Linked DNA regions of Homo sapiens: region 1 is linked to region 2. Evidence: fine-mapped expression QTL. A gene starts in region 2. The other region holds a variant in brackets. All regions are shown on one strand. Distances are between the middles of the regions. Region 1 holds the start of SMG6-AS1 (SMG6 antisense RNA 1). Region 2 holds the start of HIC1 (HIC ZBTB transcriptional repressor 1).

Region 1 (4,377 bases), 36 kb before region 2:
GAGGAAAAAAAAATGCCAGCTGCTCAATTATCGAGCACCTACTGGGCCCAGGCATCTCGCTAAGTATTTGATATGTATTCCCTCTGTCTTTTTTTTTCTTTTTGAGTCACGATATCACTCTGTCACCCTGGCTAGAGTGCAGTGGCGTGCTCATGGCTCACTGCAGCTCTGACTTCCCCGGCTCAAGCAATCCTCCTACCTCAGCCTCCTAGTTAGCTCGGACCATAGGTGTGTTGCACCACCATGCCCAGCTTTTTTGTTTGTTTGTTTGTTTTTGACAGACACAGTCTCACTATGTTGCCCAGGCTTGTCTTATCTTTTTTTTTTTTTTTGCAACAGAGTCTTGCTCTGTCACCCAGGCTGGATTGCAATAGAACGATCTGAGCTCACTGTAACCTCCACTTCCTGGGTTCAATAGATTCTCCTGCCTCAGCCTCTTGAGTAGCTGGAATTACAGGAGCCCGCTACTAACCCAGCTAATTTTTGTATTTTTAGTAGAGATGGGGTTTCACCATGTTGGCCGGGCTGATCTCGGACTCCTGACCGCAGGTGATCCACTGCCTCAGCCTCCCCAAGTGCTGCGATTACAGGCATGAGCCACTGCACCCGGCCTGTATTATCTTTTAAACCTCACAAACAACTTGAGCAAACAAAGGCTCAGAGAGGTTAAGTAACTTGTCTAAGGATAAACAGCCAGGAAGTGGCAGTTAGTACTTGAACTCACGTCTGTGTAACTATGAAGCCCAGGCTCTTGTCCAACCTCCTGTATTGCCTTGTCTTGCCTCTTGCCAGAATGGCCCTGTTTTTTATACTTTATTTACCTCATTACTTCCTGTGTGTGCTTCACAACTCCCCTGTTCCCCTGGTTCTCCCTTCAGTGTGAACATCGTCTCCTTCCTAGTAGCCAAATATACGTGTACCTTTTGGGATCTTCAGTAACCCTGTCTTGGGATAGTCTCCCCACCAGCACCAGGTCTTGCCATCTGACCATTTGCCAGTTCCCACCTCCCCTTCTCTAAGAGACTTCAGCACACACCTGGTGGTTACAGGTGGGGACAGCAGGCATCTGTGCAATGCTGGCTGATTGATAATGGCCCTCATTGCCTCCTCTAAGAAGAAAACACAGCTGTTGGGACCAGACACATGGAATGGTGTGGTTGCTGTGGGTGGACCAATGATGTTAGCATTTCATCTTGTGACCCAATGACCCTTCAGCTAGCACAGGCCAACCATAGGACTACGGAGGGTTGGATCTGGACACCGGGATTAGAAATGACTGAGAAAGGCCGGGCGCGGTGGATCACTTGAGGTCAGGCGTTCGAGACCAGCCTGGCCAACATGGCGAAACCCCGTCTCTACTGAAAATACATAAATTAGCCAGGCATGGTAGTGCGCACCTGTAATCCCAGCTACTCAGGAGGCTGAGGCAGGAGAATCGCTTCAACCCGGGAGGCGGAGGTTGCAGTGAGCTGAGATCATGCCAGTGCAACTCCAGCTTGGGTGACTGAGCAAGACTCTGTCTCAAAAAAAAAAAAAGAAAAAGGGGCCAGGCGCAGTGGCTCACGCCTGTAATCCCAGCACTTTGGTTGGCCAAGGCGGGCGGATCACGAGGTCAGGAGATCAAGACCGTCCTGGCTAACACGGTGAAACCTCGTCTCTACTAAAAAAAAACACACACACACACAAAATTAGCTGGGCGTGGTGGCGGGTGCCTGTAGTCCCAGCTACTCGGGAGGCTGAGGTAGGAGAATGGCGTGAACGCGGGAGGCAGAGCTTGCAGTGAGCC[G/A]AGATCGCACCACTGCACTCCAGCCTGGGCAACAGAGCGAGACTCTCTCTCAAAAAAAAAAAAAAAGCAAAAAGACTGAGAAAGTAGCCTGTACTTAACGCTTTACATAGAAAGAGGCCCAGCTATAGCAGGGGTAGGGAAAGAGTGAAATACTGTTTGAATTGATCCCTTGGACAGTATGCTCCGAGGTTGTCAGGAGATGCATCTGGTCCAAGGATGTGTGCTTTTTCTCACTCTGTCCCCCTTATCATTCAGCCCCTGCACAGGTTCTTTCTTTCCCTCCTCTCTGACCCATGAGCCTCTTTCTCAATTTCATACCAACTTCTTCTGACTCAAGTAGGCTGTGAATGTCTGTCTCCCCATCCTAAGCTACTGCCTGTGTCTTCAGACTGACTGTGCATCCTTGTGGCCAGTTTCGCTCCTGCCTTCTGGAGTCTGCTTCCTGCCAGGAGGCCCCTCCCCCTAGGAATGTGAATAAACCATTTCCTCTGTCCTCCCAGCTCCAGAGGATTCCCTGTGTGGTATTTTTTATTTCTTGTGTCTGAACTTCCATTGGCAGACCCCTTCGTAGGCTGGCCCACCCTTGGCTGCTACAGAATTGAGCTTCCCACCCTTCAGTTTCCTCTGAGGGTGAGTAGTGCATAACTAGAGGTTCCCAGTTTGTGAAAACACATTAGTCTGAGTTAAATTTCTTGTGGCCAATCCTGGAGGTTTGGCTCATTAAAGATGATAATTAACCCATTGCTAATTGACCTCAGAAGCCAGCCAAGCAGCCTGTATTTTACCAGCCTTGGTGTTGGATTTGTAGGCTATTTTAAGGTTTCTTAATAATCTCAGAAAGACTTCATGTTCCTGTCTGCATCTTATTTGCTCTAAGGACATTCTGTAAAATTAACAAGCTATAAAGTTTGATTGAAGGTTTCAACAAATGTGAGAATAATTGGCTCCATTTAGAGAAACAAGAAAAACAACCTGTAAACTTGAGTTTGTGGGGGGAAACCCGTGTGATTGTTCTCTTTAACCAGAGGAGCAGTAGCAAGCTGGACTGTTAAGACTAGAAAAAAGAACTGGCTGATAGTACAAGTTTAAACTCCGATTTCTCCAAACCAAAAATTCAGAAAAAGAAATTTTGCAAAATGACTAGTAACCATGGTTGTGCCTTCCAAGAAGCCTGTTTGGAGAAAACGGGGACCAGGTAACGATAGAGCGAGTCCCTCACTCCCTAGAGCTTGCATCCAGGGTCCTGGCTCTCCAGCCCTTCCTCATATTCCCTGGCTAGATTTGGAGGTTTTCTCCCTTCCCCGGGGCTGCCCTGAGGTGTTAAGTCTTGCAACTCAGAGCACATGAGTATGTGATACCTGGTGCTTAGTTCCCGTTCTCTCTTACCCTCCCTACCTTCATAAAGCAGCATATAGCTCGTTTTCTCTCCCCAACCCCCCTCCCCCGCCGGGCATCTCTACCCACACTGTGCTTGTTCCCTACCGAGTGGCTGTGAAGAGTCACCAGTTTTCAGAGAACACCATTTTTTCTTCTTTCCTTTTTTTTTTTTTTTTTTTTGAGACAGAGTCTCGCCTTGTTGCCTGGGCTGGAGTGCGGTGGTGCAATCTCGGCTCACTGCAACCTCCACCTCCCAGATTCAAGCGATTCTCCTGCCTCAGCCTCCCTAGTAGCTGGGACTACCACATGTACTACCACACCCGGCTGATTTTTGTATTTTTAGTAGAGATGGGGTTTCACCATGTTGTCCAGGCTGGTCTTGAACTCCTGACCTCAGGTGATCTGCCCACCTTGGCCTCCCAAAGTGCTGACATGACATTCGTGAGCTACCGTGCCCAGTCAAGAAACACCATTTTTCTTTACTTCTCCACCTCTCCACCTTAAATACCCCAGAACAGTAACCCAGTCTACTCTCTTGACCTAGAGGTTTTCTCCTTTGTTCCTCGCTCCCCTTGGCTCCAGCCCCTACTTACCCGATGCTTACATTATCTCTCTCTAAGGAACTGAGCCTAGGAGAGAACAGCCTCCGGTATCGCCTCTCCACATCTCACTTTCAGTTTTCCTTTCTGCTTGGTTCTTTGCGTGTGGACTTGATTAGAGTGATAACTGGAGCCCTAAAGCTAAAGGTTTCAGTTCCTGCTGCAGTGGTAAGCTGCCTCCGACAATCTTCAGGGGAAGGGAAAGGGGCTTTCTTTCAGCTCTTCCCTGACCTAAAGCCCCAGTTTTCTTTCCCAAGCTGATTGAAATGATTTGTATGTGATATTTTGTCAATTAACTTGGGAATTCTTGACAATCGCCTACACAGTGCATCTCCCTCCAGAAGGGTCAGGACTGTGACTGAGAAGGTACACCGCAGAGGAGAGGTCCGTAGGCTCCCCAGGGTGTTCCCTGGCTGGCGGCCCTTTTAGTCGCCTCTATCCCCAGTCCAGCCCCACGTGCTAATGTAGCCCAGGAAGGGAGCCTCTCCCGCCCAGCTCTTTCTCCTCTGGAGGATCCAGAGTTTGCCCCCAGAGCTGCGATATACATGCCACTTACATTCTCTGGTTTTCATTGATATAGAGTGGAAAAATGTGCTCACGAGCAGAGTTAACTGT
Region 2 (4,377 bases):
AGCCGCCGCCGCCGCCGCCGCCGCCCCGCAGGTGGCAGTACTTGCCGTGGCGCTTGAGGCGTTTCTTGCACAGCGCCACGAGGTCGGGGATCTGCAGGTAGCTGGCGGCGGCCAGCACGGCGCCCAGGCTCGGCTCAGCCCCCGGGGCCACGGCCGCGGCCGCAGCCGCCTCTGCGCCGTCAGCCAGGCGGCCGGTGTAGATGAAGTCCAGCACCAGGCGGAACACGGCCGGGCTCACCATGTCATGGTCCAGGTTGAGCAGGTTGTCATGCACCACCAGGGACTTGAGGTAGGCGCTGCTGGCCGCCAGCACGTTCTTGTGCGCGCGGAAGAGGGCGTTCTGCACCACGATGATCACGTCGCACAAGAAGCCCTTGGTGCGCTGGTTGTTGAGCTGCAGCAGCAGCTGCCTGGAGTGGCCGGGCGCCTCCATCGTGTCCAGCATCGTCTGCCCAGCACACTCTCCTGCGGGGACACACACCGGCCGGGTGAGAGCCGTGCGGCGCCCTGGCCGCCTGGCCCCAGCCCGGCACTTCTCCCCTCCACTTCCCCTTCCCTCAGCTGAGCGGGGGCATCAGCCCTGCGGCCTGGGCACCGGCGAAGGACCGGCTGCCCTCTGGAGTGGGAGCCCAGGCCGGCCCGCCCGGACCAGGAGAAGGAGCAGGAGGTGAGCGGCCGCCGGTGGAGGGGAGGCCAGGGCGGCCTGCACGCCCCAGGGCACCTGGCTGGGTGCTGGGGCTTCCGAGAAGAAAACTGTTCAGGCGCAGTGACCCTTTTGGAGACAGTTACCCGATTTAAGTAAAATGTCCGCTTCAGGAAAAGTCATTCAGGGCGGAGAACTTTACCCAAGTAGGGAGAAAGGGAGCCGAGGAACCAGCGCCTCCCGCCTCGGGAGAAGTTGCCCCAGTTGGGGGAAGTGATACGGAGGAGGGGAGCGCGGTGCCCGCCCTGGCGCCGCCCTGGCCGGGGGCTGTCAACCCTCGGTCGGGGCCCGGGCGGCGGCCGCGCGGGGAGCGGAGGCAGCGGCTGCCGTGGCGGGCAGAGCGCGAAGGCCGGGCCCGGCGCGGGGAGGGCGTTATATCGGGGCAGGAGGCTGAGGCAGGAAGCAGGTGGGGGGGAGGGGGGAGCCACGCAGCTCCCAGGGGAGGGAGGGGGCAGCGCCCCGGGCGGGCACGGCGCACAGCCGGCTGCGGCCCTGACCCGGGCCTGCGCCCCACCCGCGTCCCGGCCTCGGCCTGGGCCCTACACGCGCGGGCCCGGCGCCTCCCTCCGCGGCTCCCCCGGCCCCTTCTCCCCCGGAACTCCGCCGCCCCAAACTTGGGGAAAAGTTTTCCAACTGCAGACAGGGCGGGAGGAGTGCGCCGGCCCCAGGCCCTCGGCTCGCAGCTCTTCCTCGCGGCCCCCAAATCCGGCGGCAGAGCCCGGAGCCGAGCCCTGAGCTCCCCTGCCCGCTGCTCGCCCGCCCGACCCCGTTCCCCTCCTGGCCCGCGGGGCCCCGCGGCCCGTTACCTGCGGTCCCGGCGGGCCGGGCTCCCCTCCCCGCGGCGGTGGCAGCTCTTAGCCGATGCCCCACCCGCCGCTGCCAGGCCCCGAGCTGTGCCAGGGCAGCGCCCCTGCCAGCCCCGCCCGCCAGCTCCCCTTCCCTTCCCTTCCCCTCGCCTCTCCAGCCCATGTGCGGGCAGAGCCGGCCCCGGGCCGCTGACCCCGCCGTGAACCCGGCGCGGAGCCGCGGCCCGGTGGTCCTGAGTCCGAAAGGGACGACACCCGGAGCCCTGAACGCCAGCCGCCAGCCGCGATGGGGCACCCGCGCCAGAAGATGCACCCGAGGCGGCCGACGCACGAGGACCGGGCTGTCCCGGGTCCCCCGTCCCTCCCGGTCCCCGGCTCGAGGACCCACCTGGGGGGCATGTCGAAAGCCCCGGGCCCGGCTGACGGCGGATCCAGGGGGGACGTGGCTGCGCTGCCCTCCGCCCGCCGGGCCCCCGGTCGGTCTGTCCTGCTGGTCCGTCCTCCCCGCGTCCTGGTCGCGTCTCAGCCCCGCCGCGCTTTCCGCACACTCTTATCTGGAGCGGCCCGGGCCGGCGGGCGCTGCTGCGGCTATGGCGCCACCTCGCGGGCGCGCAGGGCTCTGCGCGGCAGGCCGCTGCCTTCCTCCCGCGCACCTGAGCTGGAGGCGCACAGATGCTGAGCCCGCGGGGAGGGGCCCACCCTACCCGCAGGTTCGCCCTCCCACCTGTACCCACCTGGGACCCCGACCCCGGACACGCGAGTCCCAGAAACCCTGGGGCTTTGAGCTGAGCGCTCCCATGTACGTATTTCTAGGCACACAGCCCCAGTTCGGAAAAGTCCTGCCCGCGAGCACGGGACTCGGGTGGTGGGGGAGAGGTTATCCTGCGCAGGAGTAGCCGAGCTCTCCTGGAACTCCCCGTAGACATTACTGTACGGCACTGTCCACTTGGACGCACTCCCCAACACACCCACCCTCACTCAGGCGCATGGATTCGGTGTGCGCGGCATAAACTGATTTGTCCCCAGCCCTATCCAGGCACTGATACTAACAGGCGCTCATGTTTCCAGAAGCACACCCGCCCCTTCCCGCAGCCCTAGCGCTCTGGGATACTCCAGGGGCAGCCACGTAGGGCCCTCCGGGAACCTGGGCAGAGGTGTTACCCACACAGCCCGCCCTGAACTTTCGGGTCTCCTAAAGGAACCCACGACGAGTCATCAGGGCGACTGGAAGTGGCTGGACAGCGCCTCCGGGGGGTCCAAAGAAGTAACCATGGGGCCCTAGAATCCCCCTGTACGCCGTTTTGAAGAATCCCGCGTGGACTTCTTCTCCAACCCACCCGCCCGAAGGAAACAACAGGGGCGCCTGCGGCTGGGACCCCGCAAGGTCCCGCGCCCCACGTGAAGGTCAGGTTTGTGTGGGTGACGTCTCTTCTGGGAGAAAGGGGACCCCGCACTGTCGCGCCGCTGCTCGCAGTACTACTCCGGAAGTGGCCCCGTGCAGCCCCGCCGCGCACCAAGCCTCCTGCGAACGCCGGATCTCCGCGGCCCACGCTCCGCCTCCGCCCCGCACCTCCTGACCCCCGCCCACACACGGCGTGGAGCGGGGGGGGGGGGGGTCCCCGAGAACTCCGCCGCTTCCGATTGGCTGCGCCTCCCTCCACCGCGGAGCGCGAGGGGCTGGGGCGCTGCGTTACCATGGCAACCGGTGAGGTGCGCCCAGATCCTGTCCCTCCGAGGCCTTGGAGAGCTTAGCAACCGCGCTCGCCGCCCCCCGCGCTGTCCTCTGGCCCCCATGGCCCCGCCAGAGGTACCGGCTGAGTCACCGGGCGAGGGGCAGCGGGCGCGGCTACCAGCGGCCCCCGAGCGACACCAAGGTCTCGGGCGCCCCCCGGAGGCTCCCTTTGCTGCGCAGGCGACTTCACGGCTTCGGTGCCTGGCGGAGGCTTCGGTCCAAACGAGTCCGCCTGATTCCCGCCGCTGCCTGAGTCCGCCCCATGTTCTGGATCCATCTTACCCACTCCCTCTCCCATGTCTCCCCATAGCATCCTCACTTTAGAAGCAGTGAGGTCCCAAAGAGGAAAACGGAGGCCTCCGGAGCTGCCGGTCTCTAGGGAAGGCGGACCCCGACATCTCGCCCGAGGGACGTGCTGCGGCCTGAGGTGGAAGTTACGGAGTGTTGAGGGGAGGTGGAGAGGCTCCTCATAAGTGCTCCTAGAGCTGGGCTTTGACGGATGAATAGGAGTTCTTCTACCGAGCAGGAAGGCATTTGTGAATAACAGAATCCCTGGAACAAAGGCTAGCGGCAAGAAAACTGGAGCTCTAGTAGGCCAAATCCAGACTATGCAGGGCCTCTCTGACCCCATCTCTTTTATCTTTTCTCTTTTTGATAGAGTCAGATCCCCCACCCCCGACTTCCAAAGAGCCCCTCCGCCCCATGTATCTTGTGCAGTGGAGTCTGTGCATTGCTAACCTGCCCCAGGGGTCTGCTGTGCCCACAGTCTTTATTCTTCAGCGTTCCCCCACATCCGCTCCCCAAGTTAACTTACTGCCCCTAACCCCATCCTCAAGCCCTCATTGCTTCTGTAAGGGAGGGTCTCACAGCCCTGCCCCAGCCCAGGCCCCTAACCCCATCCTCAAGCCCTCATTGCTTCTGTAAGGGAGGGTCTCACAGCCCTGCCCCAGCCCAGGCCCCTAACCCCATCCTCAAGCCCTCATTGCTTCTGTAAGGGAGGGTCTCACAGCCCTGCCCCAGCCCAGGCCCCTAACCCCATCCTCAAGCCCTCATTGCTTCTGTAAGGGAGGGTCTCACAGCCCTGCCCCAGCCCAGGCCCCTAACCCCCTCCTCAAGCCCTCATTGCTTCTGTAAGG

The links. PIP is the estimated chance that this variant, and not a neighbour inherited with it, causes the effect.
Region 1: its variant is fine-mapped to the expression of HIC1 in whole blood (TOPMed, PIP 0.91).

Annotation. Positions count from the first base shown.
Region 1 is chr17:2,089,149-2,093,525 of GRCh38, reverse strand. The region is part of intron 13 of SMG6 (SMG6 nonsense mediated mRNA decay factor); the gene reads left to right. It overlaps SMG6-AS1 (SMG6 antisense RNA 1), which reads right to left and starts at 3,788. Exons shown (of 2, transcript NR_199038.1): 1 at 3,757-3,788. RefSeq lists enhancers at 3,657-3,736, 3,767-3,866, 3,887-3,986, 3,997-4,176. The variant G/A (reference allele first, on the strand shown) is at 1,787.
Region 2 is chr17:2,052,759-2,057,135 of GRCh38, reverse strand. HIC1 (HIC ZBTB transcriptional repressor 1) reads right to left here and starts at 2,033. Exons shown (of 2, transcript NM_006497.4): 1 at 1,898-2,033; 2 at 1-465. The coding sequence starts at 445. RefSeq lists silencers at 120-229, 580-709, 940-1,059, 1,110-1,519, 1,560-1,609 and 2 more.